7 linked regions of the Homo sapiens genome follow. The protein of the gene in region 1 purifies or fractionates together with the protein of each later gene. This does not show direct contact. Each region holds a gene or a part of one and is shown on either strand. Other genes may lie near its edges. The genes, in order: RABL2A, TBC1D9B, VPS13A, CEP43, SLK, SPTAN1 and SEC23IP.

What was found.
Region 2: the proteins of RABL2A (region 1) and TBC1D9B fractionate together in Homo sapiens (co-fractionation; one large-scale study listed by BioGRID). This does not show direct contact.
Region 3: the proteins of RABL2A (region 1) and VPS13A purify together in Homo sapiens (affinity purification with mass spectrometry, with the first as the bait; one large-scale study listed by BioGRID). This does not show direct contact.
Region 4: the proteins of RABL2A (region 1) and CEP43 purify together in Homo sapiens (affinity purification with mass spectrometry; one large-scale study listed by BioGRID and IntAct). This does not show direct contact.
Region 5: the proteins of RABL2A (region 1) and SLK fractionate together in Homo sapiens (co-fractionation; one large-scale study listed by BioGRID). This does not show direct contact.
Region 6: the proteins of RABL2A (region 1) and SPTAN1 fractionate together in Homo sapiens (co-fractionation; one large-scale study listed by BioGRID). This does not show direct contact.
Region 7: the proteins of RABL2A (region 1) and SEC23IP purify together in Homo sapiens (affinity purification with mass spectrometry, with the first as the bait; one large-scale study listed by BioGRID). This does not show direct contact.

Annotation. Positions count from the first base shown.
Region 1 is NC_000002.12:113,625,837-113,630,065, reverse strand, and holds the start of RABL2A (rab-like protein 2A), read right to left. Parts: upstream 2,801-4,229; 5' UTR 2,666-2,800; exon of another isoform or gene 2,598-2,665; intron 2,452-2,597; exon of another isoform or gene 1,513-2,451; 5' UTR 1,460-1,512; coding exon 1,353-1,459; intron 1-1,352. UniProt on the Homo sapiens protein: Plays an essential role in male fertility, sperm intra-flagellar transport, and tail assembly.
Region 2 is NC_000005.10:179,869,898-179,873,397, forward strand, and holds part of TBC1D9B (TBC1 domain family member 9B), read right to left. Parts: intron 3,352-3,500; coding exon 3,222-3,351; intron 3,094-3,221; coding exon 2,995-3,093; intron 1,634-2,994; coding exon 1,565-1,633; intron 599-1,564; coding exon 358-598; intron 1-357. UniProt on the Homo sapiens protein: May act as a GTPase-activating protein for Rab family protein(s).
Region 3 is NC_000009.12:77,317,034-77,320,533, reverse strand, and holds part of VPS13A (intermembrane lipid transfer protein VPS13A), read right to left. Parts: intron 2,929-3,500; coding exon 2,836-2,928; intron 2,300-2,835; coding exon 1,943-2,299; intron 963-1,942; coding exon 861-962; intron 1-860. UniProt on the Homo sapiens protein: Mediates the transfer of lipids between membranes at organelle contact sites. Binds phospholipids. Required for the formation or stabilization of ER-mitochondria contact sites which enable transfer of lipids between the ER and mitochondria.
Region 4 is NC_000006.12:167,044,397-167,047,896, reverse strand, and holds part of CEP43 (centrosomal protein 43), read right to left. Parts: 3' UTR 1-3,500. UniProt on the Homo sapiens protein: Required for anchoring microtubules to the centrosomes. Required for ciliation.
Region 5 is NC_000010.11:103,965,959-103,969,939, reverse strand, and holds the start of SLK (STE20-like serine/threonine-protein kinase), read right to left. Parts: upstream 2,801-3,981; 5' UTR 2,195-2,800; coding exon 2,045-2,194; intron 1-2,044. UniProt on the Homo sapiens protein: Mediates apoptosis and actin stress fiber dissolution.
Region 6 is NC_000009.12:128,625,587-128,629,086, forward strand, and holds part of SPTAN1 (spectrin alpha chain, non-erythrocytic 1), read left to right. Parts: intron 1-182; coding exon 183-392; intron 393-804; coding exon 805-1,101; intron 1,102-1,417; coding exon of another isoform or gene 1,418-1,504; intron 1,505-1,799; coding exon 1,800-1,912; intron 1,913-2,338; coding exon 2,339-2,356; intron 2,357-3,500. UniProt on the Homo sapiens protein: Fodrin, which seems to be involved in secretion, interacts with calmodulin in a calcium-dependent manner and is thus candidate for the calcium-dependent movement of the cytoskeleton at the membrane.
Region 7 is NC_000010.11:119,920,230-119,923,729, reverse strand, and holds part of SEC23IP (SEC23-interacting protein), read right to left. Parts: intron 2,842-3,500; coding exon 2,746-2,841; intron 1-2,745. UniProt on the Homo sapiens protein: Plays a role in the organization of endoplasmic reticulum exit sites. Specifically binds to phosphatidylinositol 3-phosphate (PI(3)P), phosphatidylinositol 4-phosphate (PI(4)P) and phosphatidylinositol 5-phosphate (PI(5)P).

The sequences.
Region 1 (4,229 bases):
AGCTGGGTATACCAAGATACATTCTCCGAAAGCTCTGTTTGTTATTAAAGTGGCAATTTGCTCTACACCTGCCTGCCATTTCTATTCTTTGTTGTTTTAAACTTGAGTGGGGATAAAGGGGGTATTATTTATTGGGTAACCTTCCCAAACTACAACACCTACCCTCACTTTTACTGTACAGGCGTGCTGTTGAGGATGGTCAAAGTAACTATAAAATACTAAACCAGAGGCCGGGCGCGGTGGCTCATGCCTATAATCCCAGCACTTTCGGAGGCTGAGGTGGGCGGATCACGAGGTCAGGAGATCAAGACCATCCTGGCTAACAAGGTGAAGCCCCGTCTCTACTAAAAATACAAAAATAAAATTAGCTGGGTGTGGTGGCGGGCGCCTGTAGTCCTAGCTACTCGCAAGGCTGTGGCAGGAGAATGGTGTGAACCCGGGAGGCGGAGCTTGCAGTGAGCCGAGATCACGTCACTGCACTCCAGCCTGGGGGACAGAGCGAGACTCCGTCTCAAAAAAAAAAAAAAAATTCTAAACCAGAGCTGCAGTGTGTGATTGTGTGGTGGGGAAGAGAGAGAGAGAGAGAGACAGAGAATTCAAATTCATGGAGATGGCCTAAAAACCAGCAAAGCCCCCAGAGAATTATTCACAGCTACCTGAGTCAAAGGACTTGACTATAAAAATGAAGGTAGAAACCAAGGTGGGCCTGGAGTACTTGGGAGATAAACGTGACCACTTCTCTGGGCAGGGGCAAGTGTACCGTCATGCTATGAAGGCGGAAATGGACATGTGCCCTCAGCAGTCCTAGGCGTGAGAACTAGGACGTCTCATGGAGACAAGCTGGCAGCACGGCAGAGCCTCCCTTCACCTCTCCAGGTGGCATGTAGGCACCGAAATTCATTACAAGAAGAAGCCAGTCTTCACAATGATTATAGTCAATCGTCAGTTCTACCCAGTTTTCTCTATTTCAGAGAGTCCCTCCAAGAAAGCATCTTTACCACCTTTACCCAATCTGTCACGGTGGCATAGTCACTTTTGTCTTTCCATTCCCACTCCCCGCCCTTGCCATCCCTCAGCCCACAAACCACATACAATGTCCTCAGTTGCTCCACACGTTCTCTCAGGGCTCAGAGGAAACATTCAAATTCCTCAGTCCTTATGACCTGCCCCCTCCACCCGACACACACAACGGGTCATGTGATTCCCCTCGTTCCCCCATGAACATCTGGGCTCCAGCCAAGACTGCTCCTTCACCAGCCCCAAGAAGCCATGCTCCTCTGCCTCTGGAGGACTTTTTAAATGACCTGGACCCTCTCTGGGGCTGGTATTTATTCCCTAATCTCCCAACATACTTGGATTTGCCCACTGCGCTGTCTCCCAGGCAGATGATCTTCACGTTGTCATCAGCATCATACTTCCCTTGGTCCAACTCACTCGGTTTGGTTTTGTCTTCTGCCATTGGCTCCTAGCTGTAGAGAGGGGTCCAGCCCAAGGGAGGGGAGGGTATTGTCACTGTCTGGGAAGATCAACAAGAGGCTGTTGTCAGAGATAAGTCCCCTCAACCAAATCTCCAGCTGTACCTCCATCCAGACTGCTTCCCTCAGTGCCAGACTGAGATATGGTATGCAATTGGCTACTAGACTTGGAGTAGCAGAGGATGACACACAGGCATCAGTAATATGTTATACACAAATAGTTAAGTCCTGCGCACCCCAAATGCTGCTCCTCACGTTACCCATTTGCACAAGACATTCACCAGGCATCCAGTGCCAAAGGCTGTGTGCAACATTATGTCTAGCTCTGTTTTACTCTCCTCACACCTAAATATGACTTTGCAGACATTCCTGAGAATGTAACCACAGTCCAGACTCTTAGCTAGGGGGGCACATAGAAATGATATGATGATGAGATAGCAGCAATAGGTGAGCCTTACTGGGCATTCACCATGAGCAGACCTTGCACAGGGTTCAGAGGATGGAAGACACAATGATAGCAGAGTCTACTGTGGTGAGAGCTACGACAGAAGTATGCACACGGGTCAGGGGTAGAAAATACCAACAGGGCCCCCGAGTTTTCCTGACTGTGCCACCACACAGCTACTGCTTCTGCACAGCCAGGGACTTCGCCTTGTTTATCCAGGGAGACAATTCCTGGGAAGTGGCAGATGCCTGGAAAGCATGATGAGGGGTCTGCCCCCTTTCACCTGTACCCTGTAGAGAGAGCGACAGAAAGCCAAATCCAGCTTCATGGCTCCATGCTTGAAGACGTTCTTTCTTTTGTTTAGAGATAGGGTCTCACTCTGTCGCCCAGGCTGGAGTGCAGTGGCGCGATCACGGCTCACTGCAGCCTCCAACTCCTGGACTCAAGCGATCCTCCCTCCTCGGCATCCCTGGACTATAGGCGTGAGCCACCGCTTACGGGCGAAGACTTGCTTGTCGATGTCCTCGCCATCTAAGTGGGTATGCTATCTTTCGATAAATGTTTTTGGCCACCAACCATGTCCAGGCATCGCCAGGCTGCCCGTCCCGCCCCCCACAACAGCCTCGCGAAGCCACCTTTCCGTGCTTCCCCCGACCCGGACGCCCTCTCGCCCACACCGCTAGGGAGGCCTCGGAGGGGCTGTCCCCGCGTGCTAAGCCAGCCACCGGGGCGGATTTGCCCTCACGTGCGGTTCCGAGTGAGGGCTGGAGAGACCAGGGACGCTGCGGGTCGGCCCCTCGGGCCCTGCCGCCAGTCTGGACTCTGCGCGCTCTCGAACCACCCCGCCGGCCCAGCTCGCACCGCAGCGCACTCCACTTCCGGCTCGCCCCGCGTCCTCGCAGCTGCTACGCAACCGCGCAAGGACCCCGAGGGAGGCTGCCCGGCCGAAGGCCTGAAGGACCCCGCCGGGGCGCTGGCTGCCCAGCGCGGCGCCTGGCGGGAGGGCCGCAGGGAGTGCGCATGCGGCCGAGTGCGGGACTGGGGCTCCTGGCTGTGGGTGTGGTACTGAGGCTTCAGCGGGTGCCGCCCGCCTAGAGGGAGTGGAGCGGTGAGCACGTCAGGGGTGGGGGGCGCAGGTCAAGCTTTCACCAGTTTTTAATTCTTTGATGGGGTAAATTTGAGCAATTTTCTCGACTTGTCGACATTCGTTATTAACTGAGCAGGAATCAGGAGAGGAACCCGGTCCTCTCCACACAGCCCAGCAGGTACGCCGCCCATGTGCCTGTGGAGAAGAGAGGTTCCTGTGGGGCAGACAGGTGTGGACCAAGTAGCTGTGAAATTTCTTCTGAAGAAAACACACAAGGAGGAAGCGAGTGAGCTCAGTGGAGGAGGGGCGCTACCCCAGGGGACGTCCCCATGCATGGGCTTGTGAACCTCGAATATGTGAGACGGTCTCAGTCAATTTAGAAAGTTTATTTTGCCAAGGTTGAGGACGCACGCCCGTGACACAGCCTCAGGAGGTCTTGACATGTGCCAAAGGTGGTCGGGACACAGCTTGCTTTTATACATTTTAGGGAGACAGGAGACATCAATATATGTAAGATGAACGTTGGTTCCCTCGGGAAAGGCGGGACAACTCGAAGCAGGGAGGGGGCTTCCAGGTCACAGGTAGGTGAGAGACAAACTGTTGTATTCTTTCGGGTTTCTGAATAGCCTCCGCAAAGGAGGCTATCACATATTAACCTATCTCAGTGAGCAGAGGGGTGACTTTGAATAGATGGGGAGGCAGGTTTGCCCTAAGCAGTTCCCAGCTTTTTTCCCTTTAGCTTAGTGATTTTGGGGCCCCCAGATTCATTTTCCTTTCACAGGCTAGACAGCTTTAGGAACTGAAAGGTTCACGAGGCTGTAACGAAGAGTCGAGTTGCTCCAGGTGAGCCTGGGCCACAACAGCAGGCAGGACCTGGGCGCCCACGAGGGGCTCCTGGGAGGGTTCGGGAAAGGGATGTGTGAACCCTATCTGAGATGGTTTCAGGTAATTTAGAAAGACGTGCACCCGTGACACAGCCTCAGGAGGTCTTGACGACATGTGCCCAAGGTGGTCAGGGCACAGCTTGGTTTTAGGGAGACATGAGACATCAATCAATATATGTAAGAAGTACGTTGCTTCCATCCAGAAAGGTGGGGACAACTGGAAGCAGGGAGGGGGCTTCCAAGGTCACAGGTAGGTGAGAGACAAAGGTTGCATTGTTTTGAGTTTCTGATTAGCCTCTCCAAAGCAGGGAATCAGATATGCACCTATCTTAGTGAGG
Region 2 (3,500 bases), on another chromosome or scaffold:
CCGAGTAGGACCCTCTTCACAGCCTGTGCTGCCCAACTCCCTCCTGGAGAGGTCACAGGGTGAGTCCCAGATCTCCTGTCTCCCTGGCGTCCTGCTGGGAAGGCTCAGCCCTTCCCTGGGGCTGGCAGACCAGCTTCTAGCAGCCCCAGACTGCATGAGGGAGGGGAGCGGGCAAGGCTCCTGCTGGACCCCATCTCGGCTCCCGTGGGTAAACTGTTCTTCCCGTATCTAGGGCCAGGGGCTCAAGCTGCCCCCTACTTGCTGCAGGGGGAACAGACAGGAGATGCTGGCATTTGGAGGCTTCCTGGGAAAGGGTGAGGGAGGGTCAAGCCCCTGGTAGGCCCTGCAGGCACTCACTCATCCCTGTCACGAACTCCTTGAAGTTGATCAGCGAGTCCTTGTTTTCGTCCAGGAGCCTGAACATGCGCCCTGCCAGCAGAGGTGTGTGGGAGCCACAGGCCCAGGGTGTCAGGCTGGCAAAGAGTTCCCGGAACTGGCTGGCATCAATCCGGTACTGCTCCAGGTAGGGCAGGCTGGGGTCCCGACGGCCGGCCATTGTGCGGCTGCACCCCCAGTACTGGCTAGCCAGGTGCTTGGCCTGTGGGACACGGTCTGGTGAGACGGTCCAGCCGCTAAGCCTGTGGGTCGAGGGGACCCCTAGGCTGGTGGTGTGTCCACCCTCCCCCTCTGTCCAAGCCTGCGGAGCCCTGGGGCGGTAAGCACGGGCCAGACACTGCAGCACCTCCCGAAAGCTCTCAGGCTGTCATCAGCCCCTTGTTAACAGATGGGGAGGGGGTTGGCTGAGAGACAGAGTCCTTGGCAGCCTGCAGGGGGCAGAGCTGGTCTGCTGGCCCCAGAGAAGGGCTGAGCCTTCCTGGCAGGGCTCCAGGGAAACAAGAGGCCTGAGGCTTGCTCTCGCTCCTATGACCTCTCTAGGAGGCAGGCAGAGCTGGCTCAACTGTTGTGACGCTAGGGCCACAGCGCAGCAGCCACCTTGAGCACGGAACCTGAGGCAGCTGGAGAGGTGGACGGGAACTGGCAACAACAACAGAAAGGCAGATTCCAACCATTAAGGCTGGGTCTTTTGCTAAAAGCACAAGGGAAAGAAAAATTCTCTTTGCACTGGGATTACTGAGAAGAGAGTATGACCCTGGAGCTGTGACGACAGTCCTGGCATGGTGTAGGAAGAGCAGTGCAGAGGACATCAGAGATGGGGAAGCCTGACGGCACATTTCAGCACCTGGATCCAGCCATGCCTGAAGCTGTGCATTGCTAGACTTTTCAGTCTAGCAATACAGGGGCAATGTATTCCCTCTTCTGTGTAAGATGACTTGAATGGATTTGCTGCCATTTAAGAGGTCCTGCCTAAACTCCAAGAGGGATTCGATTCTACCACAGGAGGTTCATGGCAACTGCATCTGAGGATGCACTTAGATCTGTTTCTGTTTTTCTATTCTATTCCCTATTTCTATCTACTTCTAAGAGGATACTCTTAGATCCATTTCTTTTCTGGCAGGAAGCTAGGAAGCTAGGAACGGGTCCTGCCCTGGCTCTGAGCTGTCACCTTAAACACCATGTAAAGGTCCTCCAGCTCTTCAATGGAGAAACCAATGTCCACAGGTATAGCTCGGACCTAGAAGGAAGGAGAAACAGGGTATATAGCTGGATCACAAGCTCCTGGCACAGAAGTACGGCACTCTGTGAGAGCATCCTCGGCAGACAAGGGCAAGGGTGTGAACCGCCCTCTCAGTGGCCCAGCACTCAAGGGCGGACCCTTCGGGAGAGAGCGAGGCCCACAGCCCATCCCTGGCCCCCCACCTACCACTCAGCTCACACTCCGGGCTCCTTTCCAGGATGGGCGTGGGGGAGTCTCTCTCTCACACTCCGGGCCCCTTCCCAGGATGGGCGTGGGGGAGCCTCTCTCTCACACTCCGGGCCCCTTCCCAGGATGGGCTTGGGGGAGCCTCTCTCTCACACTCCGGGCCCCTTCCCAGGATGGGCGTGGGGGAGTCTCTCTCTCACACTCCGGGCCCCTTCCCAGGATGGGCGTGGGGGAGCCTCTCTCTCACACTCCGGGCCCCTTCCCAGGATGGGCGTGGGGGAGCCTCTCTCTCACACTCCGGGCCCCTTCCCAGGATGGGCGTGGGGGAGCCTCTCTCTCACACTCCGGGCCCCTTCCCAGGATGGGCGTGGGGGAGCCTCTCTCTCACACTCCGGGCCCCTTCCCAGGATGGGCGTGGGGGAGCCTCTCTCTCACACTCCGGGCCCCTTCCCAGGATGGGCGTGGGGGAGCCTCTGTCCTCAACGTGCAGCTGAGGTCGCAGAGTGAGGGATACTCATTTGGCTCCCGTCATCTGGATCCCTGCAGAGACCCTGGTGCCAGCTCTGTGGAAGGAGGCCGAGAACCTGCCAGCCAATGCTCCTGTACTTTAATTGGCCAAAGCAGTCAGTCTGTGGTGCTGCGACCCAATGTCCTTACAGTGTCCTACAAGCCTGCAGGAGGGCTGGGAATGTGGAAACAATGGAGGAAGTCCCTGCCTTTGGGGGCAGAGACCACAAACAGGTCTTGCAGCACAGGGTGGCAGGGAGGGCCTGGCCCCTCTAGAGATGAGAACAGCAGCTTGTGGCAGACACATGCCATTTGGGGTGTGCGGAGGATGGCGGCATGTTGCTACCTGGGAGTGGGGCAGGGAACACATGGGAAGCCAGGCTGGGCGGGCTCGGCCCAGAGGGCTGGGCATGTGGCTTTCAGGGTGGGAGCCATCTGAGAAGCTTCCCGGTGACACATCCACCAGCAGAGAAAAGTGACTGGAACCTCTCCCCACATTCCCACCTACACCCCTGGATCCCGGTCCCATGAATCCTACCATGATGTACATACCAAAGCAGTGTAGGAGACTGGGTGCGGTGGAGCCCTGTACCCACCCTGCTCTGTGGGGAAGGCACTGCTGCCCCCCCAGCCCAGCCCCTGCCCAGCCCTGCTGGCACCCATACCACACTCCTCTTGGCCGTGTCCTCCAAGGACTGGATCACTTTCAGCCTCTGTTTAAACCGCATCTGCTCAATGTCTTCGGCCCTCAGGCTGCTGAATTTCTATAGGGAGAGGTGACTTGGTGAGATCAAGCCAACTGCAGGGCAGAGGGCCACCACCTGCCCATAGCCACCCCAACCCACATGCCAGATGGAGCGGCCTGGCCAAAATGGCCCCACTGGGTGCTGACCTCATAGGACACTTTCAGGAGCTCAAAGATGTCCACCTCTGCAGGGGGGTCATCGCTGCTGCTCAGCAAGGCACGGAGGTGCGGGATAGGAGGAGAGACACTCTGCTTGTTGACCACATTATCCAGGTATCTGCAAAGGACAGAGGACAACAGTCCAGACCACGCCCAGGCAGAGGGAGCCTCCTTCCCACAGCTGGGTGATGCGGAGGGACCCAATCTTTATGCAGACTCCTAATAAGGAGTGTGCAGAGGACTGGGCACCCTGCAGGAGGGCAGAGG
Region 3 (3,500 bases), on another chromosome or scaffold:
TGAAAATCTGTCTGCAGGTTGACCAAGTCATTATTAGGTAGGAAACACGTGAGTAATTCTGCAGTCTCTTGCTTCAGAAGCAAAATTTCATCCACCTAAAGGCCCCGATTCTCATGATTATATAAATCCACAATATATTTCAAACAAATAATATACATTCCTGCACACATGCAAACATCCAAAGGATGAAGGAAACTCAGGATAGACAACAACCTACAAGATGATGACACAGGCATTATAGCATAGTGGTTTAGAGTGGATTTAACGCCTCTGCAGCTGGATTTGCATCCCATCTTTTCCACTTTGTAGCTATTATTACTTCAAGAAGTCTCTTAACCTCCCTGGTCTCAGTCCCTTCACATGTTAAATAAAAACTGTATCTACCTCCAAGAGTTGTTGTAAGGATTAAAATATTTAGAACAATGTCTAAACTGTGTTCTAAATTATGTTCTAAATTGTTCTAAATTATGTAACAAGTAACATAATACTTGTTACATAATTGTATTAGAAGCATAGGCAACATTGGCCTTAGATTTGAAAATTATATTCAGAGGGCAAACAAGGAAGCATGTGGGCAAGGCTCATGATGAGACAACCTGAACCTTGTTGTGATTAAAATAAAGTGTCGAGTGTGGTATAAACATTCTCAATTTTGGAAAATTTTTTCAGTCTTCAAATATACGTTGATGAGGGAATGTTAATAAAGGGGGAGGCTATACATGTGCAGAAGTAGGTGGTATACGGGAAATCTCTGTTCCTTCTTCTCAATTTTGCTGTGAACCTAAATCTGTTCTTAAAAAAATAAAGTCTTTTAAAATACATATATATATATATACACACATAGACATATATAGATATACCTTGATACCAAGATTCCATGGTCTAAAATCCTCAGTCTGATCAATTTCTAAGGGTTCAAGCAAAGGCTCCCATACACCAAACATTTCATTATAATAATGCACCTACAGAGAGAATTTTTTAAATTAAAAATGATCTTCCATCCTGTTTCCCACCATGTTTTTTAGCCCTGTTATTTCTTCTATATAAAAACCAGTCTACATGCCATTCAGTAGCTTCCTATAAGCACTCCCTCAGCATTTTCCTCACCTGGCTAACTTCATAGTACATATTCGCTCTTCACAATTTAGTCCAGATAAAACCCCTTTTTAAGCATCTTTCCTTGATTCTACATTACATAAAAGTATAAGGCATATATTTCTAATTCTTCATATTTCTATTAGAAGAGATTATTATCCACATATTCAGAAATTCTGTCTATATCCTTAAAAAAAAAAGGGTATTCAACTTTAACTCTTTTCTTTTCTTTTTTTTTTTTTTGAGTCTGGGTCTCACTTTGAACCCCAGGCTGGAGTGCAGTGGTAAGATCTCAGCTCACCACAGCCTCGACTTCCCAGGTATTCTCAAGTGATCGTCCACCTCAGTCTCTCGAATAACTAAGACTACAGGTGTGAGCCACCACCACTGGCTAATTTTTTGTATTTTTAGTAGAGACAAGGTTTCACCATGTTGCCCAGGCTGATCTTGAACTCCTGGGCTCAAGCGATCCTTCTGCTTTGGCCTCCCAACGTGCTGGGATTACAGGTGAGCCACTGGGCCTGGCCTCAATTTAACTCTTTAAAAAAAATATTCTGAATCTAATCAACAACTGTCGAATAATATATTATCTTTAAGTTGATAAAATCAGTTGAAATATAAACTTAATGTGGACATGTACTTTAAAAGTAAAAGGAATGTATACATAAAAGCAATTATTCAAGGGCAAAATTTGAAAACTTTTTTCTAAAAGTTTTTGACCCAATATCATATTTACAATAAGCTTAAATAGCTACACAAGATTCCATAATATTCCATATGTATCATTATCTGTCATAATATTCCATACGTATCATTATCTGTTATAAAACTGGAAAAATATGCTTACTTCTAGCTCAAGCTGACAGTGCAGATTTATTAGGGAACTCCAGTTTTTGCCTTCCCCTGAAAAACGTGACTTTGCCAGAAGCATAGGTACTGTTCTATGACCAATTCCAGCCTCAAGAACTATAAAAATAGAATCAATGTTCATTTTTATCATCTCGCCTTTGGGTACCAATTCAGTTGTGGGAGCTATTTTTTCAGTTTCATTTGATTCTTCAAGAAACCACATTTTTAAAGTCTTTGTATCCTTCTTTTCCCATAAATGTGCAGTAGAAGAAGCCGTTTCTTCTGGGATGGTTTCCTTAGTTGTATACAGTGCTGAAGTTATGGTAATCATAGTATTTATAATAACTGGTGAAACCTAAATGGAAAAAAATTAATAAGTCTATACAAAACACTTTCAAACATACTACGTCAAGAAATATTAAATATATATTATGAGAAATTAAATACTGAATTAACATTACTACCACAAAATAGAAGATACAATTTATTGTTTATAAAATTTTTTAAATTACCATAATTCTTGTTATGTGTTTACATGAATCTTGCAGATATTTACATGAATCTTGCAGATATTATTCCATGAATTACATGATATTATTAATATACATGAATTGCAGATATTATTAAACTGATGAAGTATAAAGTAATTTCAATAATATTTATTAGGGATATTAGATGTTAACCACACAAATGTAAATAATAAAATATAGAATAACATTCATAAAATGTGTATTAAATAATATTACTTTGTAAATATCTCATAAAAACGTATTTTCAAAAACACACCTATTTTGTTTGCATAACAATTAAAAGACTTGCTATAATAACTTTCTAGGCTTTACTACTTTTTTTAAGTGCACTAAATATTCAAATGATTATATTTTAATTTACCTTTAGTGTCAGGGATTTTACTGACATATCGATCACTTGTGGATCTGTACCTTTCTGAGTAGTTTGATAAAACAAGTCACAGGGCTGCAAAACCTATGAGAGAAAAATCAATACCACTAAATTAATGTTTAAATATAAAAATATTTCTATTTAAAGACTTTCCTAGTAATAGGTATGTCAAATAAACAAGTTAATAAAAACAACTATTTAAAAAGTGACTTAATAATACACTCCTTAATTATCCCATATAAAGGACATCTAGAACCTAATATCTGTTCTATTCTTCCACAGTAATAGAAGTTTTATCTGAGCACAAGGTAGCTCAGAAAAAAATACCACAGTCTCCAACCTTTACTGAAGTAAAGTGTGGTCATACAGCTATATTCAAGCCAAAAAAGATGTGAATAGAAGAAATATATATTTAAAACTTCTAAGTCAAAAACTAAGAGAGAATTGGTATACCCTCCATTTTCTATTCTCTCTCTTTGCTTAGTGGAGGGCCAACTGTCTTGCAAATTTGGGCAACAGTTTATCTTATATCCTAATATATATGTATTCATTGTATCAAAATTACATCTTATATTTCTATGGTGACAATGTTTAGAACATTTATGCTTCTATAGATGCATACCAAGCATCAGGAAAAAAATACAAAGAAACAAACA
Region 4 (3,500 bases), on another chromosome or scaffold:
TGAAAATCCTTTTCAGTGTAAACACTTACGGCATCCACCGTGAGGTTCCTCTGAGTGGTAGTGGAGTCAAGACCAGAAATCCATGGTTTCTGATTCTGTGTCTCATGTTCTTACCACATACCGCTAACAGGGATATGAGAAAAAAGCTGCCAGGTCATAAAAATACATCACAGTAGCTCGGCGCGGGGCGAGAGCTTTGAGGAGGAAGTGACATCTGAATTAGGTTTTGAAAGGGGAACAGACATTCATCAGAAACTGAACAATCATCCGAGAAGTATTCTCTCTTCTCCTTACTCTCAACATCTAGTTAAGACACTAAGTCCTGTGAATCTTACCTTCTTAATAAAAATAGTATTTACTGAGTACTAGTGACTTGCCAAGAACAATGCTAAGCTCTCTGTGGGCATTACTTAAGACCAGGGCAGCCCTGTAAGGGAAGGAAGTATTTAATCCCCTTTACAGATGAGAAAACTGAGAATACTGATATTAAATAACTTGCCCAACATCACTCAGCCAAGTTGCCCATCCAGGCTTCTAGCCACTGTAGTGGAGTTGCATGATTTACATTCAATTACTCTGCTTTTCCGTTTTCCTGCACGTGCCTGCTGCCCCGACAGCACCTCCCTGTCAGTAGGGGACCCCTCCTGTCTAGGGTGGCCTGTGCTCCTCCCTCGTGATTCTATGAAGGCTGCCAATCATGGGCAGACCCCATCAGCCCATCAGTTTTTCAGGTCCCAATGTTCAAATTTCGCATTGAACATCCCCTCTCTGAAGAAGGTTTGCTCACACCTTTACATCCCCATGCAGAGCACACAGGCATTCTCCCAGCCAGGTTTCCACGTGGACATTGCAGGCAGCGCCCCCTATTCAGCACATGCTGGAGAGCCAAGTGCTTCCATGGTCCCCACTCCTAGGGGTCACAGATTGGGCTCCCCAGGAAGTGGACTCTGACCCCCAGAGATTGAGTTTCCTGCCAGGAGTTTATCAAAAGTGCCCCAGAAATCAACGCCTGCTGGAAGCTAGAATTGCAAGAGTAACTTGCCAGGCAAGCTCTCAGGGAGCTCTGGAGCCAGAATGGACTCAGGCTGAGAGGGCCGGGCCTCTTACCCTGAGGCAGAATGGTCGTTGGATGGAGCCCCCTGAGAGGGCCTGGCCTTGGTGACATAGGTCTCTACAGTGGAGGCCATCCCTGGAGAGGCCATGAGAATGCCCACAGCAGCCAACAAAGCCCTTCACTGAAAAGGGATGTGGTGGCACATCACAGGATGGGGCCACCTCTGCATCTGCAGGTGGAGTGGACAGAAGAAATCAGCCAACTGCTTGTTGAAATGTACGGAGTGTTAATTTGCATAAGCAGTTCTAATTTAGAAATTAGGCTAAGAAATTCCATTTCCAAGCCTGTAGTTTAACTCCAGAAACACACCTTCTGCCAGAACTTACTACAAAGAGGTTTAGGTTTGCAGGAACAAATGGCTTTCTTCATTCTTTCCCTTCCTTCCTTCCTCCTTCCATTTTTCCCTTCCTCCATTCCATTTTCCTTCCCTTTCTTCCTTTCTCCTTCTCTCCCTCCCTCCCTTCCTTCCTTCCTCTTTCTTTCTTTCTAGTGTGATGGATATTTTCTTGGAAATGTGTGTTAAGTTGGGGTAGATCAAATAAGTGAACCCTGCAATAAATCATGACAAATAAAAATATTGGAGAATGTAATTCACGCTCAGATATGATCTGCCATATATACCTAACCTCTATAAATGTAATTAATATATAATTAATATATTGACACATAATAGTGTATGTTAAAATGTAAAGAGAAAACTAGAGGGAAACGTGAAGTTCCAACACTTACCGGCAGGGAGAGCACTGCCCCTTGGTGGAGCAATGCCCGCAGCAGGGATGAACCCATGAGAGCTGCTAGAAAAGGCCTGGCACTGGGGCAGTAGGGGTGCTGGGGCAGGAGAGGCGCATGGGCAGTAGGGGTGCTGGGGCAGGAGGGGATGTGCAGGATGAAGCATGCTTCATTCATTAAAAATTTTCCTTTCAGAAAGCTACTAGTGCTTTAGAAACCACAAAGGATTTCAAACAAAGTATGATTAAGAGGTATATCCAATAGTCTGGCAACTTACAAAACATGCCAAAATCGTTTTTTCGTTGTTGTTGTTGTTTTTGAGACGGAGTCTCGCTCTGTCACCCAGGCTGGAGTGCAGGGGCGTGATCTGGGCTCACTGCAAGCTCCGCCTCCTGGGTTCACGCCATTCTCCTGCCTCAGCCTCCCGAGTAGCTGGGACTGCAGGCACCCACCATCGCACCCAGCTCATTTTTTTTCTGTATTTTTAGTAGAGATGGGTTTTCACCATGTTAGCCAGGATGGTCTCGATCTCCTGACCTCGTGATCCGCCTGCCTCGGCCTCCCAAAGTGCTGGGATTACAGGCGTGAGCCACCGTGCCCGGCCCAAAATTGGTTTTTAAAGAAAATACAGGGCTGGGTACAGTGGCTCATGCCTGTAATCCCAGCACTTTGGGAGGCTGGGCCGCGGGGGGGGCGGGGAGGGGTGCGGATCACCATAGGTCAGGAGTTCAAGACCAGCCTGGCCAACACGGTGAGATCCCGTGTCTACTAAAAATACAAAAAAAATTCGCCGGGCATGGTGAAACACATCTGTAATCCCAGCTACTCAGGAGGCTGAGGCAGGAGAATCGCTTGAACCTGGGAGGCAGAGGTTGCAGTGAGCCGAGCTAGTACCACTGCACTCCAGCCTGGGCGACAGTGACTCAGTCTCAAAAAAAAAAAAGGAAAAAAAAAATACAAGTGTCTGAAAATTTAACATTTATGGAAAAAAAGTTTCATCATCAAATCTGATGATTCTACAAACTACCAAAAACAAACCTCCAGCTAAAACCGCAGAATGACTGGCCTCCTGCATGCCACTGTCCACGCTCCTCCATGCAGTACCTCCTGCCTCCACCCGGCCCACTAAGCTCAGGCCCCAGGCATGCCCTCTCCTCTTCCCCGGTTCTTGGGAAGCCGGTCTGGTGTGCAGAGGGCAAACCTTGCCCAGTGCTGCTGTTAAACTAAGAGGCAGAGAAGTGGCCAAGCACAGCATGTGCTAGAAGCGGGGCAGGAGTTGGGAGCCCGGCCCCTCCTCCCAGGGCTGTAGCAGAGCACACGTTTCTGCAGGCAGGGCCACAACGCAAAGTCGGATGACACGAGGGGCCAGCTCGACCTTACCTTGTTCGGGGGTTCATTTTCTAAGGGCAGCAAGATTCATTTTTAAAAACATGTATCAGGGAATAAATTTCACATTCAAAAACGCTGTCCCTCCTACCTCAGAGGCCTTGCTGTTTCCTTCTGTCTGCCACTCTCATTCACCCGGTGCACACCCAGGTTTCCTTGAACCTGAGGACACTTTTCCAATCTGACTTCCTCGGGGAAACTTTGTCAGCCTGGAGGTCCTCTGGCCAAGTCTCCTGGCGCATCTTGTCATCTTGGTCTTCTTGCTAAACAT
Region 5 (3,981 bases), on another chromosome or scaffold:
TAATCACCTACCACCTTCTAACTACAAGATTCTAGGTGCCTTGAGCATTTATTTTTGCCTTTCCAGGCTAATTACATACTCACAGAACTTTAATGGGTGAAAGAATCTAAACTCCTAAGAAAGTTAATATTATGGCTAAGAAAACGGAGGTCCAGAGAAGTTAAGTGTTTTGTCCAGGATTACAACGCTGGTTTGTGACAGCCAGCACTAAAACACAACTCTTGATTCCCAGGAGTGATCTTCCCACTACAATGAAGCCTTGCATCTTATGAAGCTCTTGCTGAAGCCCATACTCTACCCTCCACACAAATAACAAAGCTTATTTTGCCAACTTCCACAGCCTATGATAGCTTCCACGACAGCATTCATATGCAGACAAAACACATTCTTTCATTTCAACAAATAAACAGACACATCACTATACGCTAAGGCAGTGAATGAACCCAAATATGTATCATAATTTTGGCCCTTAATTTTATTATAGAAACATAAACATATTAATTGTAATAAGTGACAAGTGCTATAATAGCCATGTGAACAACGTGTTCTGAAAGCACACAGAGAGGAGTAGATATTTTAGCCTGGATAAAGAATGAGGACTGGGGTTTTGACAAGATGCATTTGAGGCAGGGCAGAGGCAGAAGTGTAATGGTGCTTAGAAAGTAGTAGGCAGCCGGGGACGGTGGCTCACGCCTGTAATCCTAGCACTTTGGGAGGCCGAGGCGGGCGGATCACCTGAGGTCGGGAGTTCAAGACCAGCCTGACCAACATGGAGAAACCCTGTCTCTACTAAAAATACAAAATTAGCCGGGCATGGTGGCGTATGCCTGTAAACCCAGCTACTACGGGAGGCTGAGGCAGGAGAATCGCTTGAACCCGGGAGGGGGAGGTTGCAGTGAGCCGAGATCGCGCTATTGCACTCCAGCCTGGGCAAAAGGGGCGAAACTCCGTCTCAAAAAAAAAAGAAAGTAGTAGGCAAAATGCTCTCATTTCTACCAGTGACTGTTAAAATAAAAAACAATACTAAATATGGGCTCAGAAGACCTGAGTTCAAGTCTAGGCTGAGACTCATGTGACTGTGAACAATTTCAATATCTTCATCTGTGAAATGTGGATACTAATACTGACCTGCCTACCTCACAAGATTTTTGTGGGGGCCAAATTATTTGAAAGTACTTAAAAACTTCAAAGTCCTGTATAAACATAAGTTATTTTCTTACGTTTTCACTTCTAGGCAACCCTGTGGGTCCTTCCCCTAAACGCTGTCTCATAAAAAATTCGCCCTTCAGGATGAAAATACTCCAATGACATCATTCATATGTTCCTTAGGAGATATTAAATAGTTAACATTAATGCCTTCAGGTTGAAACGCCAAGCCTCTTTCTATTGAAATAAATACATGCGTGTGTGTTTTTAACTGCTTAAGCGCTGATACTGACTTCTAGTCAATGCTTACCATAAATATATTTAAAACTAGTACCACATGAAGGTTTTTTGGAAATTTTGTCAGAAATTCCATTCTATTTTATAGTATGCTGTCAAGCAACTAACTCAAGAAGAGACTGCAAGTAGCAATCACTTTGATCCCAACTAGTTCTGTATTAGCTCTAGATACAACCAAATATATATACTGGACCCTAAAAACAGAACTGTTGGAGTACAAGCATGCACGCGAATGCAGTCAGTAGACAAATCCACTGCAAAGTGCAATGAGTTTCTCATTCTAAAATACTTGAAGGGCACAACCAGACCCCTCCTATAAATTAAAGAACACTCTCATTTCCTTTGAAGTTTGAAAGAGTAGACTTTATAACCCTGTCTCCTTTTCCAATCGCTCTTTAAACTCCATCCAGGCCCCATTTTGTTCCACCGTAAACCCGACTTCTTAGCTACTCCTTGGATGATCAGCCAAGTAAAGTTGCATCGAACCGTAACAGTCAAAAGAAGGACAGGATAAGGACCAGGGGAGCAGAAGTCCTCCCGCCACTCCAGGCCAGTGGCTGTTTTACCTTCGCAGTACAACTTCCCGTTTTCCCCCTCTTACCTTGTACACTTTCCCAAAGGCTCCGTCGCCCAGTTCTCCTATAATCTCCCAAAAGTCTTCGGGGTTCAGGTCCCTCTTCACGTGTTCGTACTGCTTCTTCTTCTTCTCGCTCCCCAACTTGAAGATCTTACGGAAATTGAAGAAGGACATTTTTCCTCCCAACACAGAGTTCCTTGCACTTAAGGACTAAAAACAATAAAAGGCAAAGTTTCTCTTCCCTGCTCTCCCGCGCGAGCCCGGCTGGCGGCGGCGGGCGCGGCGTCCCTCGGCCCCCGCAGCTCCGGCCGGGCGGTCCCGGGAGAAGGCGGGGCGGCGACCCGGGCTCCGGCCCGCGGTGGGGGTGCTGCGCGAGCGGCCCCTCCGCCGAGCCCGGCCCGCGAGCCGCGCGGTGGGCGCCTCGCCTCCGGCCCACCCTCCGGGAGCGGCACCTGCCCGCAAGCTCGCTCCCACCCGGCCTGATCCGACGGGTCCGAGCGGTCAGGACTCCCGCGGCGGCGGCTTAGGCCCGTGTCACGGCGAGTCTCCAGGGGCGGCGGCCACTCTGGGAGAGAGAAGCGGCCGGCGGCCTCGGAGGCGGGCAGTCGAGAAGCCGAGCCCTCCCGCCTCGGGCCGCGAGCCTAGGGTCTCCTCCGCCGCCGTCCGCTCCCGCGGCGCAAGGCCCGCGCGTCCCCTCGGGTCTGGGGCGCCGCCGCCGCCGCCTGTCTCCCTCCCCAGCCCACACAGCCTCGGCCTGGAGCGCGCGCCGACGCCGACTCCGTAGCGCGCCCGCGCGCTTTCCCGGCTGCGCGCCCGCCCGGTCACGCGCCCTGCTCACCGCGCGCTCGCGTGGGGGCGTCCCCTCTGGCCCCGCGCACGCGCGCTACGTCCCTCAGACTGGCTGCCCCCGAGGGTTCGCGTGAGCGGAGCACGGGGCTCGGGGTGCGGGGGGCTGGTGTGATGGACGCATTTGTTCTTCGGTCCCTGACGATTGTTTCTCATTTGCCCTCCAAGCCCCAAATCCTGTCAGTCCACGGCCTTGATGGAGCGGCCCCCGTGGGACGACCCTGTTGATTGTGCTAGCGGATGTTGTCTCCATTCTGGATCTGGGAAAAACTGTGGAGTGAAAGCCGGACCTGTTAGGGTTGGGACCTGAAAGCGGACTTTTTCGCTCTCAGACGGGCCCCAGGTACAGTGAGAGGGGAGTTTGTGTGGTGGTTGTGAGCTTGAGCTTTGGAGAGAGAGATCTGTGACCTTGGGCAGGTGACCTCTCCGAGCCTCGGTTTCCTCGCCGTAAAATGAAGATCCTAATAGTCCCTACCAGAAGGTTGTGAATGAGACAATAGATGGAAGCCCTTTGCGCGGCCCCTGCACCCGTAAACGCTCAATCTTAGTTCTTACTCTTGTTGTTTTAAGTGTGCAGGCAAGATAGACACAGATACATAAAAACTGTTTAAGACCACTTCTCTTTTTTTTCTTTCTTTCTTTTTTTTTTTTTTTTTTTTTTTTTGAGACGGAGTCTCGATCTGTCGCCCAGGCTGGAGTGCAGTGGCGCGAACTAGGCTCACCGCAAGCTCCGCCTCCCGGCTTCACGCTATTCTCCTGCCTCAGCCTCCCGAGTAGCTGGGACTACAGGCGCCCGCCACCACGCCCCGCTAATTTTTTTGTATTTTTAGTAGAGACGGGGTTTCACCGTGTTAGCCAGGATGGTCTCGATCTCCTGACCTCGTGATCCGCCCGCCTCGGCCTCCCAAAGTACTGGCGTGAGCCACCGCGCCGGGCCCCCACTTCTCAACTGATGACTGCGACACTCCCTTGAGGGTAAAACTAACTTCTGGCCACCTCCACAACTGTAAACCTGGTGTCACTCTTGGTGACTCCACCTCAGCTAAGGCCCCCACTTCCTGATCTGCCTCCAGCCCCCTTGGGCAGCACTCCCTGGTGGGGCAGTGTGGACGTTG
Region 6 (3,500 bases), on another chromosome or scaffold:
CGCAGTGATCTGCGGTCTGAAGGAGAGCAGGAAAGGGGGCATGTGTGACTGAGTCTCAGCAGTGTCCAGGTGGACAGTTTGGCTTGGGCATCTGGGGGACATGCTGGTGCCATCTGAGCCTAGGAAGAGCAAGTTCCAGTCCTGTGGAGTCACCACAAATTGGCTTGTCACTCCTTGTTCAGGAAACTTTTGACGCTGGGCTGCAGGCCTTCCAGCAGGAAGGCATTGCCAACATCACTGCCCTCAAAGATCAGCTTCTCGCCGCCAAACACGTTCAGTCCAAGGCCATCGAGGCCCGGCACGCCTCCCTCATGAAGAGGTGGAGCCAGCTTCTGGCCAACTCAGCCGCCCGCAAGAAGAAGCTTCTGGAGGCTCAGAGTCACTTCCGCAAGGTGAGGATGGGGCCACGTGAAGCTTAGCTGGCCCACAGCTCAAGGAAGGACGCCCACCTTCTGTCTGCCCAGCTCTGCCACTCCCCCTTGAGGAAGCTGTGAGCTCAGTGCAGAGCTTTCAAACATGGGTGTGGCTGGCATCAATTAAAACCAGGGCAAATGAGAGGGCCCTGTGAGATCGCCATTCAGAAGCACGCAGGACAGACTAGAGACAAGGGCAAAGGGTAGGAAGGGGAAAAAAGGCTGGTGAAGACTTGAAGGGGGAGCAGGAGACAGGAGCAGAGGGGAGCTAAGCTCCCAGCAGGCTGTGTGCGCCTCTGATTCCCAGGAACCACCCCGCACCCCACCTCCTGCACTGCGTCGGCACGTCCAGCCCTGGCGACTCCGCCAACTCAGTCTCTTCTGCTTCCAGGTGGAGGACCTCTTCCTGACCTTCGCCAAAAAGGCTTCTGCCTTCAACAGCTGGTTTGAAAATGCAGAGGAGGACTTAACAGACCCCGTGCGCTGCAACTCCTTGGAAGAAATCAAAGCTTTGCGCGAGGCCCACGACGCCTTCCGCTCCTCCCTCAGCTCTGCCCAGGCTGACTTCAACCAGCTGGCCGAGCTGGACCGCCAGATCAAGAGCTTCCGCGTAGCCTCCAACCCCTACACCTGGTTTACCATGGAGGCCCTGGAGGAGACCTGGAGGAACCTACAGAAAATCATCAAGGTACACCTCCCGCTGCCCTCAGGAGCTGCTCGGCCTCCCAGAGCCCTCTCTGGGCCCTGCTCAGAGCCCACACTTAACTGAGTCACGACAAGACGAGCAGGATGGAGGAGCATGGTTTCATCAGAAGTTTCATTTCTTTTTGTGTTCTTGAGGCAGGGTCTCTGTCACCCAGGCTTCAGTGCAGTGGTGCTACCATGGCTCCCTGTAGCCTCAACCTCCCAGGCTCAGGTGATCCTCTTGCCTGAGCCTCTTGAATAACTGGGACTACAAGCACGTGCCACCACGCCTGGCTAATTATTTTAATTTTTGTAGACAGGGTGTTGCTATGTTGCCCAGGCTGGTCTTCAACTCCTGGCCTCAAGCAGTCCTCCTGCCCAGGCCTCCCAAAGTGCTGGGATTACAGGTGTGAGCCACTGTACCCAGCCAGAAGTTTCCATTTCTGACAGTCCAGCAACTCCCTGCTTGACTGACCAGTCGCTTCCCTCCAGGTCCGCCTCTTCCTTGAAGCCCCTGGGGGGTGGGAACAGAGAAAGAACTACCAAGTGCTCTGAGCCGGCCTCATGTCTCCCAGCCTCCTCCTCTCATCTTTGGGGAGGTTCCTTGTGGGGAGGCCACCACCACCCTGAGCCCATCTGTGAAGGAGGGGCTGGTGTCACTGCCACAGCAGCGCACAGCATCTGCCCCCCTTTGGCCCTCAGGAGAGGGAGCTGGAGCTGCAGAAGGAACAGCGGCGGCAGGAGGAGAACGACAAGCTGCGCCAGGAGTTTGCCCAGCACGCCAACGCCTTCCACCAGTGGATCCAAGAGACCAGGTGCCAGCCCGCTGGGGCCGGGGAGCAGCAGCATGTCCCTGCTGTACTTAAGCCCTGGGGAGCTTCCAGCCCCAAGGAGGTGGTGGTGCTTTGTGTAAAACCAGAGGCAGCCTGGGAATAAAGCTGGGCTGGCAACGCCTGGTCGGGCTCTGGAGCCGGGAGTGGGGGCATAGGTGGAGCAGCCTCTCAGTGCTGCATGTCCCAGACATCAAGTTGTTAGAGATCCCGGATTGAGTGGGACCATGCAGGGCGCGTGGTCAGCCCCAGCCATGACTTGGTGACAGACGATGCAGGGTCTGTGCGTTGGGTACTGATGTTCTTGCTTTTGTTTTCCTTTCTTTCTTGTGTCTTCTCTCTGTCCCCCCGATTGCTGCTGTTGTCCGGACACCACCTTGTCTCCCGGCTGCTTGGATCTGCTCTCCACAGGACATACCTCCTCGATGGGTTAATATTGTTTTCTTCCTTCTCTGGGCTTGTCATGTGGGGGTCTCGTGCGCTTGCCCCTCGTGGCCTGGCTTGTGGAGGATCCCGGGATGGGCCTTCCTGCCCAGGGCGGGCTGCACTTCCCCTCCCACCCTTCTCGTCACCTGATGAGGAGTGTGTGCCTTGCCCCATAGCCCATGGTCCCTGGTCCCCGATAGAGCCTTCAAGCCAGGGGGAGCCGTCCTTGCCTCACTGGGCGATTCCAAGGGCTCACTTTGGGTAGGGAAGGTGATGAAGCACGAAGGCCAGAGCTGGAGTCCAGAGGCCCTAAGAACCCCCGTGCCTGTCCAGCCACCGGGCTCTGTTGGGCTCTCACCTCTGCTTCCCCAGCGAGTCCAACAGTGGTCAGTGGGCATGAAGCAGATGGCAGTGCTGGGGGCTCAGGCAGGGTACAGTAAGTCCACAGCTGAGAAGGGCTGGGCACTGACACCCCCTAAGTAGCTGAGGCTGCCACTTTACTTTCCTGGGGTCAGGGAGGGTAACAAGACTGTCCGCCCTAATAGAAGGCAAAAATGCACCCGTTATGTGATAGACAGGACGTGGGAGGAGCCCCAGGGAGGAGCAGGGCTGGGCTGTCCCGCCCAGTCCCGGCAGGGACTTCTCTGCTTGGCCTGGGGCCTCTGCCTGGCCGGGTCACCTTTGTAATCTGCCAAGCCTGCTGTGAAAGCCAGGGCTGCTGGGACTGGAGTGGCTTGGCCTGCACTCCTGAGGCTCTGCACCCAGGCACATCAAGCCTGTATAGGCGGCCAGGGGAGAAATAGACCCATCCAGCCGGGCCACACATTCTGATGGCAGAGCAGCTGGGGACGTAGGGATCGCAGTTTCCGGCCTGTGCCCGTAGGACACCCTGGCCACCTGACTCCCCTCCCTGCCCCATGCCTGTGTCTGCTGGTCTTGCTCTTGTCTCCGTGAGGTGCCACGCTCCCCTCACCTTATGGCTCCTCCCAAGCCCTGCCCATCTTGCCCATTCCTAGTGTGAGCTGCCTGGGGTGAACCACTGGGCCTGCTGCCTCCAGGTACCCGCCGGGCACCAGGTTGCCCTTGCCTGCGCCCTGCCAGCTTGGGCTTTGTGTGTGTCTGTTGCAGTGTGCTCTTGCCTCCCCTC
Region 7 (3,500 bases), on another chromosome or scaffold:
TAAAAATACAAAAATTAGCTGGGTGTGGTGGCAGACGCCTATAATCCCAGCTAGTTGGGAGGCTGAAGCAGGAGAATGGCTTGAACCTGGGAGGCAGAGGTTGCAGTGAGCCGAGATCGTGCCACTGCACTCCAGCCTGGGAGACAAAGCAAGACTCCCTTTCAAAAAAAAAAAAACGGAACCAACATATACATACTTGACTATCAATATCCCCAACACTAGAAACAATTCCTTTTCAAATGAAAATTACTAAGATGCTTTAAAAAGAAAAAAAAAGCACACAGTCACAAATATCACAAATATTTGATCTCCTTGTTATAAAATAATCGCTAATTTTGGTCCCATTATTTCAGTTACAGTAAATCAACAGGACACACCATATTACTTTTGTATTGATCTAGTAGCACCTTGTTATCTGTAAGAAGTGTAAAGCAATCAATGGCAACTCAGCTGAGAAAGTTTCATGGTTCATCCAAAGGCAATTACCTTTTAATTTAAAAAATAAGATCACTCTATAGATTTTTGCTCATTTCAAAACATTCTTATAATGCCATAATTTATATATCTAAGCAACTGCAGTCCATAAACCAGTCTCCTTCTAGAAATTCTTCAAGAACTATAGAATCCTTTTCTACTTTTTTCCCTTTCATTACAGAATAAATTAAGAACATGGTGTAGGGCCTGAACACAAAGCTTCTCATTTCTTGTTTTTTTTGTTTTTTTTTTTATAGGCTTTTGCTTCACTGATGTATACACGGAGACAAGCATTTTTCTGTATGGAGCACGCAGCCTGTATACAGAAACAACACTGACATGCTTGTGTCCTAGTCTCAGTTTGACTATTGTGCTCATCAGAGACAAAAGCCTGGGGATCTACTCACAGGGTTGTTGTGAGGCTCAGGTGAGATGAAAAGCTCTTTGTAAATTGGAATTACAGAACGATTCAACACACAAGAAAAATGACATGAAAGATACCTCTTAACTGCCAAAACTAATAACCTTTCTCAGCACTTAATCAAATACTGCTTGTCTATGTCTAAAATGTCTTTTGAGTTGCTCCCTTCCTCTCCACCTCCTACCTTATACCCCTATCATCTCTCTTTCAGTCACTGTACAATTACAATTACTACTATGTAAGATTGCAGCCGCCTCCACTTCACGCCTTTCCAACTTCATCTGTGCACTGTGACCAAGCAAACTCTCCACAGTCCAAAAGTTAAAATTAAAATTTAGACTACACAGATGATTTGGTGCTAAATCATAACTTGTGATAGAATAAGCAGGTCAGCATTTTGTAATGTTTAAAAACACCATGACTTTCATGGCCATAAGAACATGTTTGAAAACCACTCCCTTACAAGAGAAAATCCAAGCCTCCACACCTGCCACCTGGGCCTTTGGAACCCTCTGCCCTTCCCAGTTTCCAGCTTCCCTGATGCTACAGGAAAACACATGCCAGATTCCAGAAGGCCATCTCCCCTGACCTTACCCCTCCTTCAAGCTCAAGCACCATCACCTTGGAGAAGTCTTCTCTCACCAACCCCATGCTTGTCTCAACAAGCCAGAACTGCCACCTCTCATCTGCCTCAGGACAGCACACACAGCACGCTATTATGGGGCTGGTATGTTGTCATTTGAGCTCAACGTGCTCCCCGCAACTAGACAGCACACTCTTGGTTAATCTCCGGCTCCCAAGAATTGAACACAGTGCCTGACTCAAAAGAGGTAGCTGCTATTCAATAAAATGCTGAGAAGACTCAATTCCTTAAGCTAACCATTAAAAAAAAAATCAGTCCTATGACTTTATAGTCATTTCCCATATAAAGAAATGATGTAGGTTAAGTTCCAAACAGGTAGTAAAATAATAGAACCATAGAAATTCAAAAGATGGAAGGATCATCAAAGAGCATGTTAATAACAATACAAATAAGACGGCCACCCTAAGAGTCATCTAATTTTTCTAATTAGAAAACCTCTGTAAAATTAATTTGATCAATAAATTAAAATTAATAAAACAAGTATATTTTCCAGTTGTTCTAGTTTTAAATGCTTTTTAGCTGTTGCCTTGTTTTGTATTGTTAACAATTTTTGCTGTTTAGTGTTTAAGACTTCAGTGTGTATGTTTTTCCTCATCTCTTTAGATGGTAAGGACTGGGAAGAAAGTGAGCTATTACTTGGTGCTAAGCTTTGCATGCATTATTTCATGCTTACTCCAATCCTGTAAGGAAGGTATTATTCCATTTTAGAAATGAAGAAAACAAAGGATCAGAAAAATTAAGAAAATCACTCATGATCAGAAGGCTGAGGCGGGAGGATAGCTTGAGCCCAGGAGTTTGAGACCAGCAGTGGGAAACACAGCAAGATCCCATCTCAAAATAAACAAATGAATAAAACCAAATACAAATTGCTCATTAATACGCAGTTAATGAGCAGTTGAGCTGAGAATTTATTTGTCAGAACTTAACCACTGTTTGCACCAGGAAAACCTTAAATATCCATTTTAAAACTGAAAGCCCTTCATCCTAGGAACTTAGTCCCAGGAAAACCAGGATGGTCACTTAGCCTAATGTGGACTTAAGCCCAACTCTGACTCCTAAGTCTGGGTTTCCATCAGCTCCATTACTGTGCCCTAGGTAGGGAGCAAACTAGCTTACCTAACCATAGTAGTATTAAAATTTTCTATAATATAAACGAGCTGGTCACACCATGAGTTTTAGTTTTTCTTGAGTCAGAGGTGAACTTTACCAGTTTGGCTGCTTTATGTTCTACAAAGTTAGCTATCTTCTTTCTGGGTCCAAGGGGTATCCCCATTTCCTTCAGGTCATCAACTGTACACATAAGCTTTAAAAGGAAACAGACAAGCACATTAATCAATCTAGTGATAGAAGAACTGAAATGAGAATATGAAAATTATAAAGAAACCACATCATCTAAAGCAATCTAAGAGCCACTCAACTTTTTACAAGTTAGTTATTTTGTATTTAAATCATGCATCAGTTTAGGCTATAAAATCTTAGGCTTCCACACCTAAATCATTCTATTAATTAACAGAAAATACACATATGGTATACAAAATTCCAAAGCTATAGTCAAGCATACGATGAAATATCTTCCTCCCACTGCTGTCCCAAACATAGAATTCTCCTCTCAGCGCAACTGTGGAAACTTGCTCTCTTTGAAGCGATGTCTTATGTATGCATAGCACTTACATGTTTTTCTCTGTGTGTGTGCTCTACTATGCACACAGTAATGAACTCTGCTCTCTTCATGTAAATGTACCTTAGAGACGGGTATCTCTGACACTGCATCATTCATTCAACAGCTGTAGGGTACTCCGTTATGCGGATGCACCATAAATGATTTCACTAGCACCCTACTCCTCAACACCAATGGTGTCTCTAATGTTTTGTTACCTTGCAAACACTGCTGTGAGTATCCTTGTAGATAATTCTTGTTTGAATATTTCTCTATAGGAAATATTCCTGGCAATGAAACTGATG